Regions from separate parts of the Homo sapiens genome. Here region 2 is reported to be linked to region 1. The links are microRNA targets in miRTarBase. Many come from high-throughput screens and were not tested one by one. Region 1 holds a microRNA gene; the other region holds the end of a gene's coding sequence.

Region 1 (4,365 bases):
GCTTCTGGACACATTCTAGTCCTGTCTGAGGCAGTGGCAGAAGACAGGAGGGAGATTGAAGTGGGGAAAGCCACAGTGCTTTTCTCCTTTTCTTGCTTTTCTTCCTGGACTGCCTGCAGTGATGGCCAGGGCGTCTCAGGAACCCCGGCTGACCGGAGGCAGCTTCTGCGCACTGTGTCCTGGTTTGCACCCTGCCCCACGGGTGGCCTTGGCCCCTGGAAACCCCCTGGGACCCATTGTTCCTCCTCCCCTAGGGCTGCGGGGTGCCCTCCTGTCGCTGGTATCTAGGTGTCTCACCATCCGTCTCTGCTTCATAACTCTTGCCTCACTACGTAATCAATTCCTATGTTTAAGCCCTTCTGTTCCAGTAACTACAGCATTTTGTTTTGTTTTGTTTTTCTGGCTGAATTCTGACAAAATATCACTTTTTTCTTATGCACATTCAAGTTTGCTTTCTGTTTCTTGCAGTCAAAAGAATCGTGGTCAAACAGAATGAAAGGCAAAACTTAGAGGAAAGCCTTGGAAACAAAGCCGGCCTCCCTGAGATTCCTGCTGTGTACAAGGGAGACAGGCCCACACTTCCCCACCTGAACCTGTTTTTGACAATCCCTGCCCAACTTCCTCACCCAGCAGTTGTAAGAAATGGGTTTGTCAATGGTTTTTTCTAACTTGTTCCAGTAGAATGTAAGCTCCTCGTGGGCATAGATTTTGTCTCTGTTGCCAGTACTGAAACCCTGGTACCTAGATGAGTGCTGGGCACACAGCAGGTACTTTGTAAATATCTATTAAGTGTACTTAGTACCTAGGTACCCTAGTACCTAGATGAGGTATTCATAAGTGTCTGTTAAGTGTACTTAGTACCTAGGTACCTAAGTTCCTAGATGAGGTATTCATAAGTGTCTGTTAAGTGTACTTAGTACCTAGGTACCTAAATTCCTAGATGAGGTACTTCATAAGTGTACTTAGTACCTAGGTACCCTAGTACCTAGATGAGGCACTTCATAAGTGTCTGTTAAGTGTACAATAAGAACTGTGGATCATGACACAGTGGAATTAACTTGATAGACTGTTGCTGTCAGCAGTTTTCTTTCATAAACAGAATAGCATAGAAATTCTATTCCTAATAGAGCACATTTCACATGGTAGGTCTGTGTTTTCTGTGTGTTGGTGTAGGTATGTGTATGTGTGTGTGTGTATATGCAAGCACGAGCACCAACTTGTGTTGTAAAATGTGATTCTTACAGTAGACCTTGATTTTCAAAAAATTTGAAAGCCGGACAGCAAGATAATAGTTCAGCTTTTTGTGAACGGTAAGGAGTGTGCAAATCTGAACCTGTAGTGTCTCCTGGATTGCTGTCAGTGAGGACAGAGGATCCTCTTTAAAAACTGGGTCCAAACTCCCTCTGGTCTCATTTTGCACCTCTCCACAGTATAAACTCTCCTTTCCAACCATTCCAAATAACTTAATTCCCTAATCTCAGGGGGCCGTTTCATTGCAGAAATTGCTGCTTGTTCACAAACTTAGTAAGGTACTTAAAAAAGATTTTGTCATGGTTAATAAAAGTCACAGGGTAAATTGGTCTTATTTCTTCTTTTTAGTGCAAAATGTAATCCCTTCACCCTGATTGTTTTGCTTAGTTGTACACACCACCCATCGGGAGGCCAGAAAACTTGTATTTATTTCTAGAGCTACCTCCTTACAGAATTTCAAAGAACCTCGGGGCACTTGAGAATTGGTGTCCAGACAGGATGAATCATTTCTTCTTCAATCAGGATTTTTTATTTTATTTTATTTTGCTGGGGGATAAAGATAAAGATGATTGAACTTGTTTTATTTAGGGGAAAAACAGCCTCTCTTTGAACTCTTGATCTCCACTTCTCAGGAGTGGAGCCCATTTGTAAACTCTCAGGTCTCTCATTGCCTTCTTTGTCTCCCAACCTCCTAAGGTCGAGAGTGATTCTTTATGGCAAAGAGTGAGCATTCTGGAGACTGCACAGCCTCCTCTGAACAAACTGGAGCATATATTTCCCGCATCGTCTCTGTCACCTCCCTGGGTTTTATTTTAATTGCCATGCTTTTCAAAAGCACAATTCCTATTAAATTATTCATGGTGGTATAATGTTTATGTGATCAGAGTAATTATTATAATTACGCATTGTGAATTTTCATAATTAATGACCTCACTCGGATTTCATTTGGTGCAGAATATTTCCGAAGGGGAATCAGGTGGTTGTGTCTGCTGGGGGAATCAGAATGGAATAAAATGGTGACCTATCTTGGGTTTTGCAGAGCAGTAGAAACTTCAGTCATTCACTTTGGGGACTGGGGATGAGGAGGCATCTTGAGAAATGGAAGGAATGGGATCTACTTCCAGTTCACTAGAGGCGTCCTGACACCCCTAGCTCAGCATCTTCCTCTGTGAACCGCCCATGGGAAGGTGTCCAAAGGTGTCCTAGTAGAACAAGCCTAGCAGACCAACAGGAGCAAGGAGACCAGACACGCGTCTCACTTTTGGGGCTTTTGAATGAGACTGGGGCTTACCAAATCTGCAGAAACCAGCCAACAATGCTCAACAGCAGCAAAACCACACTTCAGTGACTCACACAGCAAGGTGGCCCTAACAGGACTCAGGCTTCAGCTGACTTCCTCTCCCTCTCTAATTCTGGAAAGAGTAGAAAATGCAAGCCATTGGAGAAATGGCTGGTGGCACTCTGAGCATGGGAAGAAATTTGATATTTTATGATTGGCACCTGTCTTAGTCTGTTCTAGTTGCTCTAACAAAATACCAGAGACTGGGAAGCATCTAAACAACAGGAATTTGTTTCTTGCAGTTCCAGAGCCCAGAGATCCAAGATCAGGACACCAGCAGATTCACTATCTGGTGAGAGCCGGCTTCCTGGTTCATAGACAGGGCTTCTCCCTATGTCCTCTCACAGTGGAGGGGAGAGGAATCTCCCTAGACCCTTTTATAAGGGCCCTAATCCCATTCATGAGGCTCCACCCCCGTGACCTCATCACCTCCCAAAGGTACCACCTCCTAAGACCTCCATTCTGAAGAGGAGGATTTCAACACATGAATTTTCAAGGAACAAAGACGTTTAGAACACAGCCATTTTGTAGTCAGATTTCAAATATTTTAATGCCTCCATTTTCCTCATCTTTGACTTGTATCTGAGGAACCAATGCTTGGTGTGAGCCCTAAATAAATAAATAATAGATAGATAGATAGGTAGATAGATAAGAAGTTCAAGCTTCTTTGTCCCCCAGCAAAAAAAAAAAATTAAAAAATTGAGAAAGAAATGATTTATCCTGTTTCATCCTGTTTTGTATACAAATAGATGCCAGTACTCAAGTGCCCCAAGGTTCTTTGAAATTCTGTATGGAGCTAGCTCTAGAAATAAATTTATATTATGTTTGAGACAGGGTCTTGCTCTGTTGCCCAGGCTGGAGTGCAGTGGCACAATCACAACTCACCGCAGCCTCGAACTCCTGGCCTCAAGCAGTCCTCCTGCCTCAGTCTCCCAAAGTTATGGGATTACAAGTGTGAGTCAACACACCCAGTCCCAAAATAAATATTTGGTATAGCTATAGCTATTCACTAAGACCTTTCATCAGCATCATTCCCTCTCAGCCTCAGACCTACTTGAGGGGAAGGCAGTTCCATCCCCATTTTACAGATGAGAAAACTGAGACGTGTAGGGTCACATGGAAAATAAATAATGACCGCCTTGAAACTGTGATGTCCAGGGCGTCCTGTCTGTAACAGCCTGCTACCTTCCACCCCCTCCCCTGGGTATGCTTTCATTCCTTACCCGACTTCTTAGACTTGCCCTCCAATGTTACTGATGTGCCTTTTAAGTCCTTCAAAAAAAAAAAAAAAAAGAAAGAAAAAAGGGTGGGGTACAACCTGAAGAAAGAAGAAAAATAAGAGCCCCACATAAAATTCTGCTCAGTGATCAGAGACCAGTCCAGTCATAGATTTCAGTTTTAAGCACCAATTAAAAAAAAAAAACCTTAAAAATTTCTCCTATTTCCTTCTTGATCCTTGTAGAATATTGTACTTTTCAGACCATATTTAGTTGTACATTCCTCTGTCTTTCTCTCTGCTCTGTCATTTCTTGAAGACATGGGCCTTTCCTTATTACCTTCCATATCTTCAGGTTGTAATGGGATATTCAACACATAATAAGCAGTGAAATGCATCTTGCAAGAATGAGTGAACATTGGTTTTCTCTGTACCTCCCCTTGCCTCCCTTTCTTCCTAGTGTCCAAGTCCCTTTGTCTCTCTTTGTCCCCTATATTTACTGAAGTAGCACCCTTGTTTTGAGAGTATTTGTTGATTTGAGATGCAAAGCTTTTGGCCT
Region 2 (4,000 bases), not on the chromosome of region 1:
AGAGGGCATGGCAGCCTTCAGGGAGAAGCGGACTCCCAAATTTGTTGGCAAATGACCCCCATTTTAACCTTCAGCATGGGAGATGCATGCCCTGAAGAGCAGGATCCAGAAGGAAGATTTGTGGCCAGATTGCCTTCATCATTTCACCTCTCCAGACTTCCATTTCTTCACAAGGATGATGATGGAAATAAAATGACTGGCGTGATGCCTGGAACCAAGGTGCTGATCCTACCACCTACTGCTACCTTCCTTAGCTTCACCCTGGCTAGAAATAATCACGAGGGTTGGGTTTGCTTTGGAAAATGCCTGTCTCTCTACTTGAATGATAAAGAATTAAATTAGATCTCTCTGAGTCTTGGTATCATTGGCTCTCAGCCCCTGACCTCTCTCAGTTATCAGGCACTCATTAGAGATGTCAGAAGATTTTAAGATACCCCTAGTTTCTTCCTGTGAACAACAGAGGTAATAAATAAACTCTGACATCGGTTGAACATGTGTCAGGGGTCAGACTGCAGATCCCAGTCTCTGCCAGTTACTTGCTGTATAACCGTGGACAAATTGTTTAAATGCTCTGGGCCTCAGCTTCCTCACCTACAAAACAAAACTTGTGAAGATTTAGCAAAATAAAAACACTTCATATTCAATAAATATGTTTTAATTGTTAACTTACAGTGTTTTCGTGAGGACCAAACGAAATCATCACTGTGAAACACTTTTGTAAACTACAGGGTGGCAGAAAATTCTTTTTATTTTTTGAGACAGGGTCTCACTCTGCCACCCAGGCTCCAGGCTAGAGTGCAGTGGCGCCATCTCAGGTCACTGCAGCCTCCACTTCCCAGGCTCAAGTGATCCTCCCACCTCAGCCTCTGGAGTAGCTGGGACTACAGGCAAATGCCACCATGCCCAGCTAATTTTTGTATTTTTTTGTAGAGACAGGATTTCGCCATATCACCCAGGCTGGTCTTGAACTATTGGGCTCAAGCAATCCGCCCGCCTGGGCCTCCCAAAGTGCTGGGATTACAGGTGTATGCCACTACACCTAGCCTCCAGGAGACTCTTTGATAGCATTTAGGAGCACTGAGAAGAAAGGGGCAATTAACTCTAATGGAAAGAAGGGAGGATCCGGAAATGGGCAACTAACATTGGAATTGAAGCCTGAAGGATTAAGGAACATTTCAAGTACAGAAGAGGAAGCTTGACACAGCATGAGCAAAGGTGAGGAAGAGGATGATACACTTAGAAAACCAAGAGCAGGCTGATACATAACCATACTGGTCCCAATACCCCTCCCTCCTCTGGTACCAAGGCTACATCTTAAGCTATGCCTTTGCAGTCATTCTCCAACTGGATCTGAGCGCTGGCTAAGCTGAGCCTCAGCCTGGCCTAGAGTCACTAAACCATGGGCATGGATACAATATAAATAACATTGCGGATTTCTGCAAAATACAAATGTGCTCCCAGGGTTATGCTTGCATCCTGGAAGGAAGAATAACACAGGAGAGCCCAGGCCTTTACAGTCAGCACAAACCACACCAGCTATGACAACCCAGGAAAGTAACCACCTTACTGAACTTCCTTTTTCTCATCTGTTAAGTGAGGAAAATAAAACTCACCTACCCGTGAGGATTGTTGTGAATGACACAGAACTTGAAAGGATGTCTTGTACAGAATTGGACTTAACACACTAGTTCCCCTAACACATCCTCACATTAGAATAAGCTAGCATCTGATAACAATGCTCTGAGGTACTAGAACCCAGGTCAGGAAGATATCCTTTTGGAATCATGCAAGAGTGTGAAAAAATACAGTACAGTTTAAGGACTATGGAAGGAAGTAAGGTTACAAATTCTGCTTATCTGGTTGGACTCTGGTAATAGTTTGGAACATGGTTTAGAGTAAGAGAATGAGCTTCTTCCTCATTTGATTTCCAAAGACAGTACATGGTACTCTAGTTAAGAATCTGAACCAAGCCAGCCAAAAGCACAAAAATCTAATCCTAAAATGTGCTAACAGAAATTTACTTTTATTTTCTGAAAAACTTAAACAGATAAATGACAAAACATGTTCATTAACAGTCAACAATAAGGCAAGGAAGGAATTCACACTATTCCTCAGAGCAGCTCCGCAAGGCTTATCAAGTAAGCTTCTGATATAGTTTATACTGTAGTTGAAGCTGGTTTCAGAAAAGCCCATGTTTTCTTTAGTCAGCATGCGGGGTAAGAAAACTCCGTGAACTCTCTGGCAAAGTCTCTTTCTGGCCTTTCGTCTTCCTACCATTTTTGGTCATGGTTCCACCCAAATAAAATGGAGGGATTCAGATTTATCATTACATGTAATCTTTCATCTAAACACTGTCTGCAAATGCCTAAGTCCCACCACGCCCTACAAGCTCACTCACATACACAGCATGTCATGCTCACATAACAGGAAACATGCCAAAGATAGACACCCAAAATTGTAAAAAGGCCAGGTGCAGTGACTCACACCTGTAATCCCAGCACTTTGGGAGGCCGAGACGGGTGGATCACGAGGTCAGGAGGTCGAGACCAGCCTGACCAATATGGTGAAACCCTGTCTCTACTAAAAAATACAAAAATTAGCCGGGCGTGGCGGCATGTGCCTGTAGTCCCAGCTACTCAGGAGGCTGAGGCAGGAGAATTGCTGGAACCTGGGAGGCAGAGGTTGCAGTGAGCCGAGATTGTGCCACTGCACTCCAGCCTGGGCGACAGAGCGAGATTCCGTCACAAAAAAAAAAAAAAAAAAAAAGGTAAAAAAATATATTTCTCTTTTCTCCACCCCTCTATTCATTTGAGATGAGGTCTCACTCTGTCATCCAGGCTGGAGTGCAGTGGTGCAATCTCAGCTCACTGCAACCTCTGCCTCCTGGGCTCAAGTGGTCCTCCCACCTCAGCCTCCAAGTAGCTAGGAGTAAAGGTGCACACCACCACGCTCAGCTAATTTTTGTATTTTTTGGTAGAGACGGAGTTTTACCACGTTGGCAAGGCTGATCTCGAACTCCTGAGTTCAGACAATCCACCTGCCTTGGCCTCCCAAAGTGCTGGGATTACAGGCGTGAGCCACCATACCCAGCCATAGATAAATAAATAAATAAATAAATTCTTTTCCCCGCTCTCCAACAGGGGTTCTGCCTTCTAAACACTACATTTTGAAGCATATGCTTCCCAAGCTTTTCTCATAGCTTCACATGACGATAACAACAAAGGAAATTTAATATAAATATCAAAGTCTCCCTGTAGGTTTCCTTTCTCTTCTAGTGAACAGGTCCCACTCCCATGACAAGCTCCCAAAGGGAAAAAATTGTCCAAGGCTAGAGAAAAGTAACTTGCATAGCTGTTCCAACACAAGCTCCCAGGCCTTCCCAGAGTCCACGGTTTGAGTCTTCAAAATTGCTGCTGAAAGGCTGCAGAATGAGTCCAACTTGACTTGGGATTACAGCTATCATACAAATCCAACCTTTTGTAACATATATAAAATCAACAATCAAAGGCCAATGAGACAGCCAACTCACAAACTCCAATGACAACTGATGTGCAATTACTGCCAGGGCAGAACACCTGACATTGAGGAAGAGCACACACCTCTGAAATTCCTTAGGTTCAGAAGGGCATTTGACACAGAGTGGGCCTCTGATAATTCATGAAATGCATTCTGAAGTCATCCAGAATGGAGGCTGCAATCTGCTGTGCTTTGGGGGTTGCCTCACTGTGCTCCTGGATATCACACAAAAGCTGCAATCCTTCTTCTTCAACTAACATTTTGCAGTATTTGCTGGCTGAAAGAAAATCAAGCAGAGACACTCCATGGACAACTGGCATTTTAAATACTCCCATGTCACCACATTCACCTTGCTGAAGAAACAATACAAAGGTTTAAGCTCTTTGGCCTAGGAATTAACAGATAAAATGAGTCAATTCTAAAGCAGTTCTTCAAAACTTGCTTGGCTTGTATGAGGTAACAGATGCTCATTTTAGTATGTTTA

Evidence for each region. The annotated mature microRNA hsa-miR-3612 reads AGGAGGCAUCUUGAGAAAUGGA and lies in region 1 at 2,333-2,354, shown strand. An mRNA with a match to its seed (bases 2 to 7 or 8) in the 3' UTR can be bound and repressed. Matches are read on the target gene's strand: a 7mer-m8 pairs with bases 2 to 8, a 7mer-A1 pairs with bases 2 to 7 and ends in A, and an 8mer does both.
Region 2: the mRNA of ZYG11A is a reported target of hsa-miR-3612. Seed matches in the 3' UTR shown: 7mer-m8 at 2,672-2,678.

Annotation. Positions count from the first base shown.
Region 1 is chr12:128,291,773-128,296,137 of GRCh38, forward strand. It overlaps MIR3612 (microRNA 3612), which reads left to right and starts at 2,320; the gene lies at 2,320-2,406. All of the region lies in intron 1 of TMEM132C (transmembrane protein 132C), which reads left to right.
Region 2 is chr1:52,892,575-52,896,574 of GRCh38, reverse strand. It overlaps ZYG11A (zyg-11 family member A, cell cycle regulator), which reads right to left. Exons shown (of 14, transcript NM_001004339.3): 14 at 1,577-3,793. The coding sequence ends at 3,618. ECHDC2 (enoyl-CoA hydratase domain containing 2) reads left to right here. Exons shown (of 10, transcript NM_001198961.2): 10 at 1-665. The coding sequence ends at 55. Among named protein-coding and RNA genes, the nearest start is that of ECHDC2, 27 kb to the left of the region's middle.